Linked DNA regions of Homo sapiens. The protein of the gene in region 2 interacts with the protein of the main gene of each other region in a pairwise test. Each region holds a gene or a part of one and is shown on either strand. Other genes may lie near its edges.

Region 1 (7,635 bases), on a different chromosome or scaffold from region 2:
GAAAGGACAAACACTGGAATAATAATTCCAATTATATGAGGTACCTAGAATAGGCAAATTCATAGAGACAGAAAGCAGAATGGTGGTTGCCAGGGGCTGGAGGGAGGGGGAATTAGGGAGTTATTGTGTAATGGATACAGAGTTTCAGTTTGGGAAGATAAAATTCTGGAGATGGATGGTGGCCATGCATTGTGAATGTACTTAATGACATGTACTTAGAGCATACTTAGAAATGGTTAAAACGGTAAATTTTATGTTCTAGGTATTGTACCACAATAAAAATAACTTTTAAAAATGAAGGTGAAAAAAAATCCCGTTTATTCTTTATTTTTATTTTTATTTTTTATTTTTTACTTTTTTTGTTTGAGACAGAGTCTTGCTCTGTCACCAGGCTGGAGTGCAGTGGCGCAATCTTGGCTCACTGCAACCTCTGCCTCTCGGGTTCAAGTGATTCTCCTTCCTCAGCCTCCCGAGTAGCTAGGACTACAGGCACGCGCCACCACACACAGCTAATTTTTCTATTTTTAGTAGAGATGGGGTTTCATCATGTTGGCCAAGATGGTCTCGATCTCTTGATCTTGTGATCCACCCGCCTCGGCCTCCCAAAGTGCTGGGATTACAGGCGTGAGCCACCGCACCTGGCCCCATTTATTCTTATGTGTTTCCACTGAAGACCCATAGGTATCATCCCCACTCCACTCCTCCAGCTCTTCTGGGACAACTAGAAACCGTTGAGATTTGGGGGTAAAGGGGCATTACTTGGAGGCTAATCCTCACCTTCTTGGTCCCTCACATATCCAGTTGTCTGATACACTCTCTACCCTATACCCAGCAGGACACAGTGTCCTTTGAGAGGGGAAATGAAATAGAGAAAAATATATATGAGAAAGTATCATTTTCTGGCAGAAAAATGAGTACATTTTAATTAGAAACACTGCCTCGGCCCGGCGCGGTGGCTCATGCCGGTAATCCCAGCCAGCACTTTGGGAGGCCTAGGTCGGCGGATCACCTGAGGTCAGCAGTTTGAGAACAGCTTGGCTAACATGGCGATACCCCGTCTCTACTAAAAATACAAAAATTAGCTGTGCGTGGTGGCACACACCTGTAGTCCCGGCTACTCGGGAAGCTGAAGCAGGAGAATCGCTTGAACTCGGGAGGCGGAGGTAGCAGTGAGCCAAGATCCTGCCATTGCACTCCAGCCTGGGCGACAAGAGTGAAACTCCATCTCAAAAAAAAAAAAAAAAAAAAAAGCTGCCTCAGAAGAGCATTCTTGGGTGGGACAGGCCCTACACCTAAAAGGACCCGCTCACATAGCTCATCCTCTCTTGACCTCTTTCCCCTGCTCTCTCTGCCCCATCTCTGCCCACTCTTTCTGGGACCCGGATTTGACACGGTTGCTGCCACCCCAATAGCAAGTCTCTTAGGACATTCCTGTGCTCCTCACTTTCCTGGCTGAGGGTCAGAACTTATCAAAGGGGTCTTTTTGAGGAAGTTAGGGGAAATGCAAAGGAAAACAAAAGGAAACTATGAAAGTCTAGAAACAACTAAGTTTACTAACAAAATGACTTTCTTCTCTCGATATAGCTAAAGTCAAGCCATCAATGGGCTTAGCATGTTTTGATTTTAATAAGGCTTAATAAGTCTGCATTTTGAGAAGGCTGTGGACCCCTCTGGCAGTCTGGTGAAGCCATGGACCCTTTCTCTGAATAATATGTTTAAATGCACAAAATAAAATACGCAGATTTACAAAGGAAACCCATTATATTAAAATTCAGTTATCAAAATATTACCCACAATATAATATAGTAACATATGTGCTTCTTGATGTATGCATTAAATAACCAGATCTAACAGCAGTGCCAATAACTACTGGAATTTTGAAGTAGTCGTGAACATAAATGAAATTTCGAGATGCCTGCAACAACTATAATATGAAATGCAAATCTCTGTGATGTCTGTTACTGACACTCACAGGTACTCCTAACACTTCGTGGTTTATTGCCTACATTCATCATTGAAGGAAATACTACATTTCAGTTAGAGGTTAGTGGAAAGAAAGAGGCAGTTTTATTCATCCCAATTCAAAGTAACCCCCATCCACCCTGAATTTTTGGTCTATAGGACCCTGGTTGAGAGCCTCTGCTCTAAGGGTCATATAGCCTCCCATGGGTTGGAACCAGCTGTCTCCTACCTGTCTCATCCTTCAGGATGACATTATTTCTCCTCATCCAGTTTTCAAGCTTGCACCTGTAATTGACCACCCCCAAATCCCTGGTTTCTGGCAGGGAAAATCTTGGAGCTGTCAGCCCGTTTGCCGTTTGCACTCCAGCCTGGGCGACAAGAGTGAAACTTCATCTCAACAACAACAAAAAAAAGCTGCCTCAGAAGAGCCTTGGGTGGGAGAGGCCCAACATTGTTGACTTCTGTGCTGTGAGTCCACAGAACAACTGGCTCTTTCTCAAAATTCTGTCTGAGATGTCACTCAGGCAGCCCTCAGATTTTCCAGAATTGTCTCACCATAACCATAGACTAGAAAATCACCCTACACCTACCTAGTAACACCAACTCTGTAAGCCACCACCACTTCTGCCCTGTCCCTGAATATGACTCTTTTCAGCTAGTTCATAGGGGACAGCTCCTGAGAAGACTGGAGTGATTTTTTTTTTTTTTTCATCTTGAGACGGAGTCTTGCTCTGTCACCCAGGCTGGAGTGCAGTGGCACGATCTTGGCTCACTGCAAGCTCCACCTCCCGGGTTCAAGTGATTCTCCTGTCTCAGCCTCCCAAGTAGCTGGGATTACCAGTGCATGCCACCATGCCTGGCTAATTTTTGTATTTTTTTTTTTTTCAGTAGAGACGAGATTTCACAATGTTGGCCAGGCTGGTCTCAAACTCCTGACCTCAGGTGATCCACCTGCCTCGGCCTCCCAAAGTGCTGGGATTATAGGCCTGAGCCACCGTGCCTGGCCTGGAGTAATCTTTAAACCAGAACAGCTGCAGCCTCACTCCTGGCCTTTGTGCCAGCCAGATCCTTCCCAGAGGGTGGAGATCACCCAGATGATCTCTTTGGAACCCTCCTCATCTGGAGATTGGCCACTCTTTTGGTTTGTTCCCCATGTGCTCTCCAGCCCTTGGGGTTCACTCACCTAAAAATATATAGACTGGGATCCATTGCAAAACAAAGAAGGTTTGGAGGCCCTCCTGGAGATTCAGTCGGGAGAAGAAAGCCATGGTTATGGTGCTGTTCTGTTGTGGCAAGAAGCCTAACCAGAAGGTCAAAACTTCTTAAGCTGAGTTGATTATAGATGCTTTGCTATAATCTCTTACTGTGGAGTAAGATTAGCTGCTGGGGTTTTGTCAGGCTTGACCAAACTTTTCCTCCACTGCCCCGCCCCAACTTCCTACCCACACATCAGGTTGCAGATCAGGCAATATAATTGATCTCCCCAGTAGTATCCTTTCTCCACGTGTGCCCAATTGTAATGAAGCAGAAATGGCCCTGGGGCGGCTCTAGCTGTGGGGGAGGGGCACTCTTGATAAATCAGCGCAGGAAGAGAGTATCTTGGGCCTCAAATAGGACCTCCGAAAAGCACCCCACTACCTTTCCCTGCTTAAGAAAAGGGACTTGGCAGCCACACTTGTTCCTGCCCTAGTGGTTACCCTTTGTCTCCTCTTGTCTTCTGCTGAGTCACCTAGCCCACTGGGGCTGTTTTTCTGCACCGGATATCTGTTAATAGACTCTTCAGATCCCTCTTTGTGCCTCTAGTCCCAAGGGACCTGCCTCAGTGGCCAGATACCTTATCATAGAGCGGGAGAAACATTGCACAGAAGGAAGACCTGGCTCCCAGTCCCAGCTCTGCCATGCTCTTCCTGTGACACCTTTGGAAAATGTTACATCTCTCTAGAGCTCAGTTTGAGCATTCATTGCTAGAATGTAATATAGGTTAGGGGCATAGACTTTAGAGCCAGATAGCTGGGGTTCACATCTCAGCTCTGTCACTTACAAGGTGGTGAACCTCTATGCCCCAGTTTCTCCATCTGTAAAAGTGGGACTATAATAGTACCTACTTCTTAGAGTAGTTCTGAGGATTAGATAAGTGAATGAATATAAAGTGCTTAGCACACAGCCTGGCACCGTTTCCTGTCATTACTACTCACTGAGTTCAAGTAACACATATTGAACAAGTAACATATGTTTCAGGCTGAGGCTTGCTTCTGTGTAATAGCCTTTGGAAAACTGAAGACTGTTCCCAGGTCTCAGACCGTTTTTTTTCTGTTTGTTTGTTTCGTTTGTTTTTTTTTTTCCAGACAGAGTCTCACTGTGTCGCCCAGGCTGGAGTGCAGTGGCGTGATCTCGGATCACTGCAACCTCTGCCTTCTGGGTTCAAGTGATTCTCCTGCCTCATCCTCCTGCGTAGCTGGGACTACTGGCGTGCGCCACCACGTCCAGCTAGTTTTTGTATTTTTAGTAGTGAGAGAGTTTCACCATGTTGGATATATTTTTTCTGTCACTATCTATTGAGTGACTGCTGTTTGCCAGGCACTGTGTTTAGGTGCTGAGGATTCAGTAGGGAAGAAGACAGACATGATTCTTGCCTTCTTTGAGTCTACAGTCTAGTGGAGGAGACAGACATTAAAACAAAAAAAAAATCACAAAAATGTTAGGCTGGGTGCGGTGGCTCATGCCTGTAATCCTGGCACTTTGGGAGGCTGAAGCGGGAGGGTTACTTGAGCCCAGAAGCTCCAGACCGGCCTGGGTAACATAACGAGATGCCATCTCTACAAAATAAGTAAATAAATAAATAATAAAATAAAATTAAGATAAAATGTCTGTACACTTGAAGTTGCAATGTGTCCTACAGGAAAAGCCCAGTACTCCCAGCAGAAGGCCTTGAATATAGAAGGTAGTCAAAAACATCTGTTAAACATAACTGAAGGGGTTGCTGGGAAAATGAGATACAAAAATGGTATCAAGGGTTCTATAAGTGCAAGGGGGCATTGGTCCCTTTTCCAGGGAGATTGTTGGAACTCTGTCATCTCCCCACCCCCACTCTGCTTTGGGCTTCCCGCATTAGACTGACCAATGTGACTCTTCAGAGCTGAGCTTGGGGAACTTTTCTGGTATGTCAGGGTGTGCTTTCACTCCCCCGTGTGCACTAGATGGTCATCTGACATGCGACACCTTCCTCTTCCTCCTCTTTCTTTTCTTCCCCTTGGGCTAGCTGGGGTTCTCCAGCTGCTTCTTGGGGCTGCTTGACCACATAGAAGGTGAGATGTATCAGAGCGTATCTGCTCAGAATTTGCACGGGAGGAGGGAGGGAGGTAAGAGAGGCAGGCTTGGCTCTGCTCAGGGAAAGCAGAGATATGGAGGGGCTTAGAGTGCCCAGGCCAGACGAGATCCACAGTATCAAGAGCTCCAACGCCCCTTACAGATCAGGTCTCCGCTCCCCTCCACTTTCAGATGGGTGAATGGAGGAGATCTGGAAAGGGCTCAAGGTGATGCAGGAACCAGAGGCAGACAGGGCCAGACAGTTTTCTACCTCTGTCTCCCTAACATCTGGGTCAGGGTCTGGTGCAGAGCAGGCACTCAAGTAAATGTCTGTTGAACCTGTGAGGGAGACCAGGTCTCTTGATGCCTCAGGCAAGATAGACTGACCCAGATTGGCCACCCTTTGCTCCCAAAGACAGAGCACGCTGGCCCAGCTGGAGCTCTCTTGAGCCAAATGGACAAGTATAACATAAACATCAGTGAACAAAGAAAGAGCAAGAAGAAGATAATTAGGCTAGCAGATAAACCCTGAACATCCAGCACTCGTGATTTCCCAGTTACAATTCATCAACCAACAAGCAGAAGCTTGGCAGCCTCAGAGTAAGCAATAAAGAAGGAAGGGTTGCCAAGGAGCACAAAGGGCCTGCCAATTTCATTTGTAGACATTGAAGGTTGACGTGATTCCCACCCTCAAGAAACTCACAGTCCAGTGTTGGAAGTAGGTGTAAAAGCAGACACCTGCATGGGGTGCTGTGGGTTGCACAGACGAGAGAAGCACCTGCCTGCCCTGGGAGGTGAGGGAGGGGTCTGTGGAAGAGGGCCTGCTGCAGTGAGGAGAAATGGATCAGGCGAGAGAGGCCTGGACGGGCAGTCCAAGAGACGGCCGTGAGCTCATCAAACGGGGCTGTGATAAGCTGGACCCCAAAGAAACTTCAAAGGAGCAACAGAAAAACAAAGAAAGGAGAAAAGTGGAAGGAAACAGATCAAGGGGACCGGGACCAGAGAGCTCAGAAAGGGTGGTGGAAGTGAAGGGGTAGCTCTGATTCAAAGCTCTGATTCAGAAAGGGTAGCTCTGATTCAAAGGTTCACCCTCAGCCTTTGGAATGACTCATTTCCAGACAGCTTTGGATAGCTGAGGTTTTGCCATAATTTGTTTTCTTCTGATCTTCTCCCTCTGTCATACCCTTATATGGTTAGGTATTACAATTTCAGCTCAATTGAAAACATTAGGCCCAGGCATGGTGGCTCACGCCTGTAATCCCAGCACTTTGGGAGGCTGAGGTGGGCGCATCACTTGAGTCCAGGAGTTTGAGACCAGCCTGGCCAACATGGTGAAACCCTGTGTCTACTAAAAATACAAAAATTAGCTGAGCATGGTGGTGCAGACCTGTAGTCCCAGCTACTCACTTTGGAGGCTGAGGTGGAAGAATCTCTAGAGCCCAGAAGGTCGAGACTGCAGTGAGCCAAGAATGTACCACTGCACTCCAGCCTGGATGACAGAGCAAGACCCTGTCTTAAACAACAACAATGGAGAACCTATTTAATGCCAAGCACCAGGCTAGGTATTCTAGAAGGAGTGTACCTAATCCCTTCATTCACCAAATTTTTCTTGAGGCCCTACTTACTCTAAGTCTGGTATTGTTCTAGGTTTACAATTGCATGTGTGTTGGGTTATGGGGCAGGGGGCACGGACAGGGAATGAAAGAAGTGCATATGTCATCAATACAAGGATTGGGGCCATCAGAGAATTCCAAAGGAGACAGAGACGAACACTAGCAGCTGTGTGACCTTGGACCAGACACTTCCTCTCTTTGAGTCTTGGTTTCTTCATCTGGTAAAAAGGATGCATCCTATTTCTTTGCTGTGAGATGTAGTGGCAGTGTTTGAAAAGCTTCTCGTGCAGTGTCTGCCATCCAGGAGCTGTTCACTAGCGCTCCTATTCAGCTGTGGGGAGGGAGTATTTGCAATGTGCTCTAACAGGTTGAGAAGTGGGGAGGATGACATTTCCTACAGTGGCCCAGCATACACAAAAGACCAGAGGTTTGCTTTGGCACACGGGGTGGTTTAGTTTGATAGGAGTCTCAGGTTGGTGGAGGGGAGTAGAAGAAGAGAAGGCTGGAAAGCGATAAGTGGAGCTGATTTCCTCACAAATCTCTTTACGTATCTGGAGGCCTAGATACGTAAAGAGATTTATGTTTCACTGGATTCTAGGTCTAGAATCCAGTGAAAGTAGACCCAGGAGTGGTGGTGGGACGAGGGGCCTGTGGAGATGGAGGGTAGGGCAGAACAGGGGACGTTTAAAATCCCCTGGAAGCAGTAGTGACTGGATCACTTCTCATGGCAGGCAAGGCCCCAGGGAACAGCGGC
Region 2 (7,330 bases):
TGCTCCTAAATTGCAGTTGTTTTCTTTCAGTAATAAGGCTATTTAAATAATTTCCATTACAAACATAGTGATAGCATATGGATTTGGGAGACTTGTGTTTTAAGTTGATTACATCACTAGCAAGCTGGACCAGTTGCTTCTCTTAGCCTCTGTTTCTCTATCAAGAAAGAGTTTGGATTTAGATCATTACTGAGTTTCTTCCATCTTTAAAATCTGATTCTAATGCAAGTCTTTTCATGTTATGCTCAAAAGACTACATATGCAGTATTTTTTAGCTTTTGTTTACAGATGCCTGTAAAGTATTGCCTAAATTTATTAGAGATACAGTATTCTGGTTATAAATTCTTGTTGTAAATAGGGAAACTTATGGTAGAGAATTTATCATTTAACTCTTGGTTAATATCTCCTGCCTTGGTTGGTACCCTGATAGCTTTAATAGTATACCTGTAACTTTGAAGAAGAAAATATTACATTTTCTTTTCTTTGATATATCCTAGAACTCACTTGAAAGCAGTGGGGTCCGGACAACCAAAAATGAAGAGGAGAATGAAAAGGAAAAGGAGCTCCAGCTGGAATATCTGCTGGGTGCCTTTGAAAGCCTGGGCAAAGCCTGGCCGCGAAACGCGGAGACCCAACGTAAGCACCAGAAACTGCATTTGAAGTGCTGTAACCAGAGGTTACTTAATGAGAGCGAAGAATTTTCTCTATGACAAATTATAGTTATTGTTTCTTATCGAGCCTGATTGATTAATAATGAGAATTATCCAGTGAAAGTTTTTTGTCTACATGAGTCTGTGATCTCACTGATCATTGTACCGCTGTAGCTAGGGCTGCTGTAAGAAAGTATCACAGACTGGGTGGCTTAGCAGAAATTTATTTTCTCACAATTCTGGAGGATAGAAGTCTGAGATTTCGAGATCAAGGCGTCAGCAGGGTTAGTTTCTCCTGAGACCTCTCTCCTTGGCTTGGGAATGGCTGTCTTCTCCCTGTGTCTTCACGTGGTCTTTGGTGTCTCTGTGCCCTAATCACCTCTTCCTATAAGGACACCAGGCACGCTGGATTAGGGCCCACTCATATGACCTCTTTAAAGGCTCTGTCTTCTATTTAATAATAATACAGTCAAATTCTGAGGTACTGGGGGATAGTATTTTAACATACGAATTTTGGGGGCACAGTTCCACCTATAATAACCATGATACATTTTATGCAGATAGTTTGATAGACGAGTTCTACTGATCTTCTTGATGATCATAGCTCTATTCAGAGGAATGCACAAAGTTTATTAGCAGGGTCTCTTTATCCTGAAATGAATGGTCTTGTTACCAAGTGTTCAGTAAGCAACTGAAATCCCTGTTTCAGTGAAAAACTCATTACTATTTGGACAATTTTCAGAACTGGACATGTATTTCCCAAAGATTAAATGAACAGTAAACCTCTATTATTGGATGAGGTTGCAGTTAGTTTGGAGTCCCCTGACAGGGCCTTAACCTTGGGATGATACTACCCTTTACACTTGATCTTAGCCAAAAGGCCAAGAAGTGATGATGCTACCCTTTAAGCTTGCCTTGTGTTGGGTCCTACAGTGCATCCTGCTGAAGATCTTAGTATTCGTTTTTTTTTTGTTTGTTTTTTTTTTGAGACAGGGTCTTGCTTTGTTGCCCAGGCTGGAGTGCAGTGGTGCAGTTCTTGCAGCCTTTACCTCCTGGGCTCAAGTGATCTTCCTGCCTCAGCCTCCCAAGTATTTGGGTCTACAAGTGCATGCCACGACACCCAGCAAATTTTTTTTGAAGAGGTGAGGTCTTGCTATGTTGCCCAGGTTGGTCTCAAACTCCTGGGCTCAAGTGATCCTCCCACTTTGGCCTCCCTCTCAAAGTGCTGGGATTATAGGTATGAGCCTCCATGCCCAGCGACAATATTATTGAATGTTATAAAAAGTACTGTTGATTATTTGTGATTGGATATGTCTAGAATCAGTTAAGGTTCTCTTTGAGCCCTGTCATCCTTTGTGTGAACTTATATATTTGCTATGTTTATAGGAAGGGTTTCCCAGAAGATACAAATTTGCAGGTGGTTTTATTTCTTAATATTATGTTATAGACTGCCATGGAAGTCCACTAATATGATGCCATAAAGAGTATTAACTTTTCCTTGATAGGTAGAGAAAGCTAAAGTAGGGAATTATATGAGAAAGATGATACAAACATAAAGCAGTTTATTTTAATATAAGACATAGAAGGTTGTTAATAGAAATGTGCATTTATTGAGAACCAAGGCCTTTTCTTTAGGAACTTAACTGTTACACATTGGCTTCTCATATATATCTACAATTTCTGGGTTTTGTTTCTTTAAAACAGAGAAAGAAATTTCAAGCTCTTATGAGACAATCCTAGTGCAGAATTCTAGATTTTTTATTGCCTCCCCCCATTTTTACATTTGTTTGAGCCCTACTAAATCCTACAGTAATTAAAAATAACTTCGTTGTTGAGTTTTCTGCTGATTCATCAGTTGGCATAATATTAATTATATAGTTATAATTACAGTTGCAGTTGGCATAACAGGTTTATAATAAAGCACTGTTGACTCTTGGTAAACCTGCAATTTGCAGAAGCTTGTGAGCATCTAGAGAGGAGCTTCTGGCCTCCAGAGTTCTTTCTGTGGCTGTCATTCAGGGAGTTTTGAGGGGCAAAGGGAGTGTGGTTAAAGTGCTTTCTCAGTTCCATGGAGAACCATATGCCTTGAAAGTGAATATTTGTGAACAATTATATTGCACCTTTGTGGGGGCAGTTTCTGATCAAGGAAATTTGTTTGGGGATTGAGTACAAAGTCATGCTGAAGTTTTTGGGGAAATTTCAATGGCTTTAATTAAAAGTATTTATTGTTTTATTTCTCTTTTTCCTGCTTTTCTCTCTCTTATCCTCCCCACCTTCTCTCTTTCTCTTTCCCTCTTCCTTTCTCTTGCTCTCTCTGCCTGTCCCTCATTTATTCCATCTCTTGTTCTTTTATACTGTCTCCTGCTCTGTCCCACCTTGTCTTTTTTTCCCAGGTTGTTATCGTCAGGAGCTGTGCAAACTGATGTGTGAACGGCTAAAACTCAGCACGTGGAAAGTGCAGCTAGGAGTCCTGCAATCAATGAATGCCTTTTTTCAGGGGTAAATTGCTTCATGGCTCAGTTTTTTATTTTGTTCCTCCCCGCAGCATTTTATGTATAATCAATGGAATTTTTATACATTTAAAAACTGGTAGCTAAAGTGACAGTGATACATACAGATAGAAATTGTGACAGGAAAGTTTTAGACTGTTTCTTAATAATTGGCATTTGTACCTTGCTTTCTGATTTGTATAGGTTAATGCTTTTGGAAGAAGAACATGCCGATCCTGAGGCTTTGGCTGAAATTCTGCTTGAAACTTGTAAATCAATCACATATTCTTTAGGTGAGTGTAGTAAACTAAAACTGATGAGGGAGTCCTAATTTTAAAGCTAAGGAGCTGAGCTTCAAATATTTCCTACTTTGTCTTAGGAACTAAATTTCTGAAATAGCTACTGGACTCTGCTACTTATTATACTCCATGTGTACCCCTTAACTGGAATATTTAAATCTGGAACTATAACAGGATTTTAGCATCTAGTTTAGAAAAACCTTCGTGACAAGTATTTTTACAAAATTGTTACTTGAAAGTAATTTCAAACTTACAGAATGGTTGCAACGACAGTACATGTAATACTCTGCAATATGTATACACTTTATGCAGAATCATTTGTTAACATTTTGTGCCATTTGCTTTGTCATTTGGACTTCTATATACATGTTTTTCTCCTGAACCATTTGAAAGTATGTTGCTTACTTCAGGCCCCCTTGTTCCTCAATTATTTAGTGTGCCACGGTACAGTTGTCAACTTTAGGTAGTAAACATGGATGCAGTTTTTTAAATCAAATGTTTATCGTTCATATTCTAGTTTGTTCAGTTGATTCGGTAATGTTCTTTATTTTTATTTTTATTTTTTTTGAGTTGGAGTCTCGCTCTGTCACTCAGGTTGGAGTGCAGTGGTGTGATCTCAGCTCATTGCAACCTCTACCTTCCAGGTTCAAGCAGTCCTCCTGCCTCAGTCTCCCAAGTAGCTGGGATTACAAGTGTGTACTGTCACGCCCAGCTGATTTTTGTATTTTTGTAGAGACAGGGCTTCACGAAGTTGGCCAGGCTGGTCTCAAAACTCCTGAGCTCAAGCAGTCCACCTGCCTTGGCCTCCCAAAGTACTGGAGTTATAGGCATGAGCCACCACACCCAGCCAGTAATGTTCTTTATAGGATTTTTTCCCCCTCCCCTCCATTAGGGAATCCAGTCCAGGTGATGATGATGATGATGATGATGATGATGATGATGATAATGGTTATTATTATTTTTGAGACAGGGTCTTGCTCTGTCACCCAGGCTGGAGTGCAGTGGCGTGATCTTGGCTCACTGCAACTCTGCCTTCTGGGTTTAAGTGATTCTCCTGCCTCAGTTTCCCAAGTAACTGGAATTACAGGTGTGTGCCATCATGCCTGGCTAATTTTTGTATTTTTAGTAGAGACGGGGTTTCACCATGTTGGCTAGGCTGGTCTTGAACTCCTGACCTCAAGTGATCTGCCCGCCTTGGCCTCCAGGATTATTTATTGAATTTTATTGTCATATATTTTTAGTCTCCTTCAATCTGGAATACTTCGTCAGCCTTTCTTTGTCTTAGGACATTGACAATTTTGAAGAATAAAGTCCCCCCGACTTCCCTTTTTGAAAAAACAGAATGTTTCTCATTTGGTGTTTGATGTTTTCTCATGATTATATCCAGGTTGTGAATTCCCAGTTGGGATACATACATAAGTGATGTGTCCTCACATTAAGAGGCACACAGTGTCCATCTGTCATCATTTGTGATGTTAATTTTGATTACCTGGTCAAGGTACTATCAGTTTTTCTCTACTGGATAGTTACTATGTTTTCTTTTTGTGTCTAATAAGTAGCCTGTGGGAACAGATCTTAAGATCATTCAAGTAATTTGTTTCTCTTCTTTAAAATTTCTTCTCTATATTTAGCATGCATTGATGATTCTTCCCTGAACCAATTTTTACTAAGATGATTTTGCAACTCTAGCACTTTGTCCACATTCACCATTTGATAGTTGGAATTCTGTTGTAAGCAAGATTCTTCTCTTCTGCCCATGTTTTTATTTATCTGTTACTGGCATTGATTCATGGAATCTTTCCCCCTTCAAATGGTTTATAATTTAATTTTTTAAATCTAATTCGTTATTCCAGTTGTCCCAGATTTGGCCAGTGGAAGCCCTTTCAAGCTGCCTCCTGTGTCCTTTTGACAGGTCACCGTCACTCTTTGTAGCACTTTTGTACTTTGTAGCATAACAAGATGATAAGGCCCATCTCATGCCTACCCTGCTTTGGGCTTGGTTGTGTGTTGATTTTTTTGGTAGACAATTTCACCATGAACCAGACGCCGTGTCAAAGAGTGGATGCCAAGGAAGCATGTTTCATTCGCAGTTGTTGGCAGCAGCATCCTTTTATGGATAAAGAACAGGCAGCCAACAGACCTCTCTTTGCTGAGTTCCAGGTGTCCCTGATCGGCTTAAACACTGGGTCATATAATGTTCTTTGGTAAAATGAGGAGGGTCATGTAGACCTAAGGATCGTTCTTATCCGTGATACGAAGATGATTTTGTGTTTGAGATAGTTTTTTCATCTCCCACTTCTAAAATGGATCATTTAAATATTGCCATTTGTTGTGGTGATTGGTATACTTGGCTGACAGGTTTTTGTTTTTCCAAAGTAAAGACTGTGGACATTAGCACACATTTCAAGTATTTGATACTTAGCAAAGGGAAGCTTCCTTTAAAAAAAAAAAATCAGATATACCCTTCCCTAGAGTTGTAATTTCTGGACATCTTTCTTTCAGCAACACAAATTTAATCTTGGAGGTTGTGTTTTTCAGGCAGGCCATATGAACTGTATGATATTTCTTTTTAGAAAATAAGACCTACTCATCTGTGAGAACAGAAGCTTTATCTGTGATAGAATTGCTGCTTAAAAAACTTGAAGGTAAGTTGTTGTTAGTTCTGACTGGGGGACCATAAAGCCATGTGGCATATGTTTTAGAAATTTTTTGTTTCGTTTTTGCTTATACTCTTAAGCATATACTCTGAAATACAAATCAGTATGTATGCACATGCAAGAAGAATGGACAAAGCCAAAACTATTAAATTTTACTAAATATTTAAATTTGATACACTTTTATATATTTTTAATATATTATTAAGCTATAGTTGTCTTAAAGTAATAAAGTTTTTGTTTTCATCGTGAATCCTGATTTAATCTTGGTTAATTACAGGAATTGGTTGACAGTGGCATGTGTACATGTAAATAAGCAGAACGACACACTGAAAAGTGGAGTTGGAAAAACATTTTTAACAGTTATCTACCTGAGTCATCAAATCTGACAGTAGCAATTTTCTTAATCCTATTTCTTCTCCCCTAACCTCTTTTTCTTCTAATGGTCTATCAGTGGGTGGGGTGGGGGGGAACTGTTAGCATTTTCTCCAGTGGTGTATCTGTTACTGACTTCAGAAGGAGGACCCTCTTCTTTTTTCTCTCTCTCTCTCAAATTGTTTTCACGGATTAAGAATGTAGAAGATGGAAACGTTTTTCCTGCAACCTTGTGTATTTGCTCTTTCTACTTCTCTATCTTTGCTTAGCAATTAAAACACCTCTCTTAGGGCTCCATCAAACAGAACTTTTAGACTGAGTAACGCTAAACATCTCCTAATCCCTTTTTTCCTTGTTGAGATAAAAGAGCTAGGCACTTAGTCGTATTACCGAATTCTCAGTTTGCCAGATATGTACTAATATAGTCCAGATGAGGAAAATAAGGCTGAAGGCAAGCTAAACTTGCCTGAAGCCACATTGCTAGGAAGTGACAGAACCTTGTAAACAAGATTTAAGATTTGATATACTTTCTTATTTTCTAAAAATTTCAATGTGCATGTAGTTCTCAGATGCTTTCCTCGAAGAAAAGGGAGTGTCATCTATTTATCTGACCTTGCAATTATGACATTTCTTAGAAGTTTTTTTTTTTTAACTGACCGTATCTTATGAAATGGTCTTGCGATGGTGTTGTTGAAATGACTTTTTTGCTGCAGTGTGCCTTGCCCTGATAATTCCTTCTTCCTACTATGCTTCAGTGTAATTATTTCTCTTACTCCCACTGATACTGGGGGAAGGAGAGGAAACTCCCTGATGTGCCTCTACGCTACTGTCAAGAATTAGGTTTTGAGACACATATTGACAGT

What was found. The genes of interacting proteins can lie anywhere in the genome.
Region 1: the proteins of ECPAS (region 2) and DGAT2L6 interact in binary tests that used the Homo sapiens proteins (3 or more experiments, as listed by UniProt).

The regions. Positions count from the first base shown.
Region 1 is NC_000023.11:70,173,178-70,180,812, reverse strand, and holds the start of DGAT2L6 (diacylglycerol O-acyltransferase 2-like protein 6), read right to left. Parts: upstream 3,331-7,635; 5' UTR 3,231-3,330; coding exon 3,146-3,230; intron 1-3,145. UniProt on the Homo sapiens protein: Diglyceride acyltransferase that uses fatty acyl-CoA as substrate. Particularly active with oleate as a substrate. Has no wax synthase activity to produce wax esters.
Region 2 is NC_000009.12:111,362,341-111,369,670, reverse strand, and holds part of ECPAS (proteasome adapter and scaffold protein ECM29), read left to right. Parts: intron 1-497; coding exon 498-636; intron 637-3,043; coding exon 3,044-3,149; intron 3,150-3,343; coding exon 3,344-3,432; intron 3,433-6,011; coding exon 6,012-6,083; intron 6,084-6,372; coding exon of another isoform or gene 6,373-6,383; exon of another isoform or gene 6,384-7,330. UniProt on the Homo sapiens protein: Adapter/scaffolding protein that binds to the 26S proteasome, motor proteins and other compartment specific proteins. May couple the proteasome to different compartments including endosome, endoplasmic reticulum and centrosome.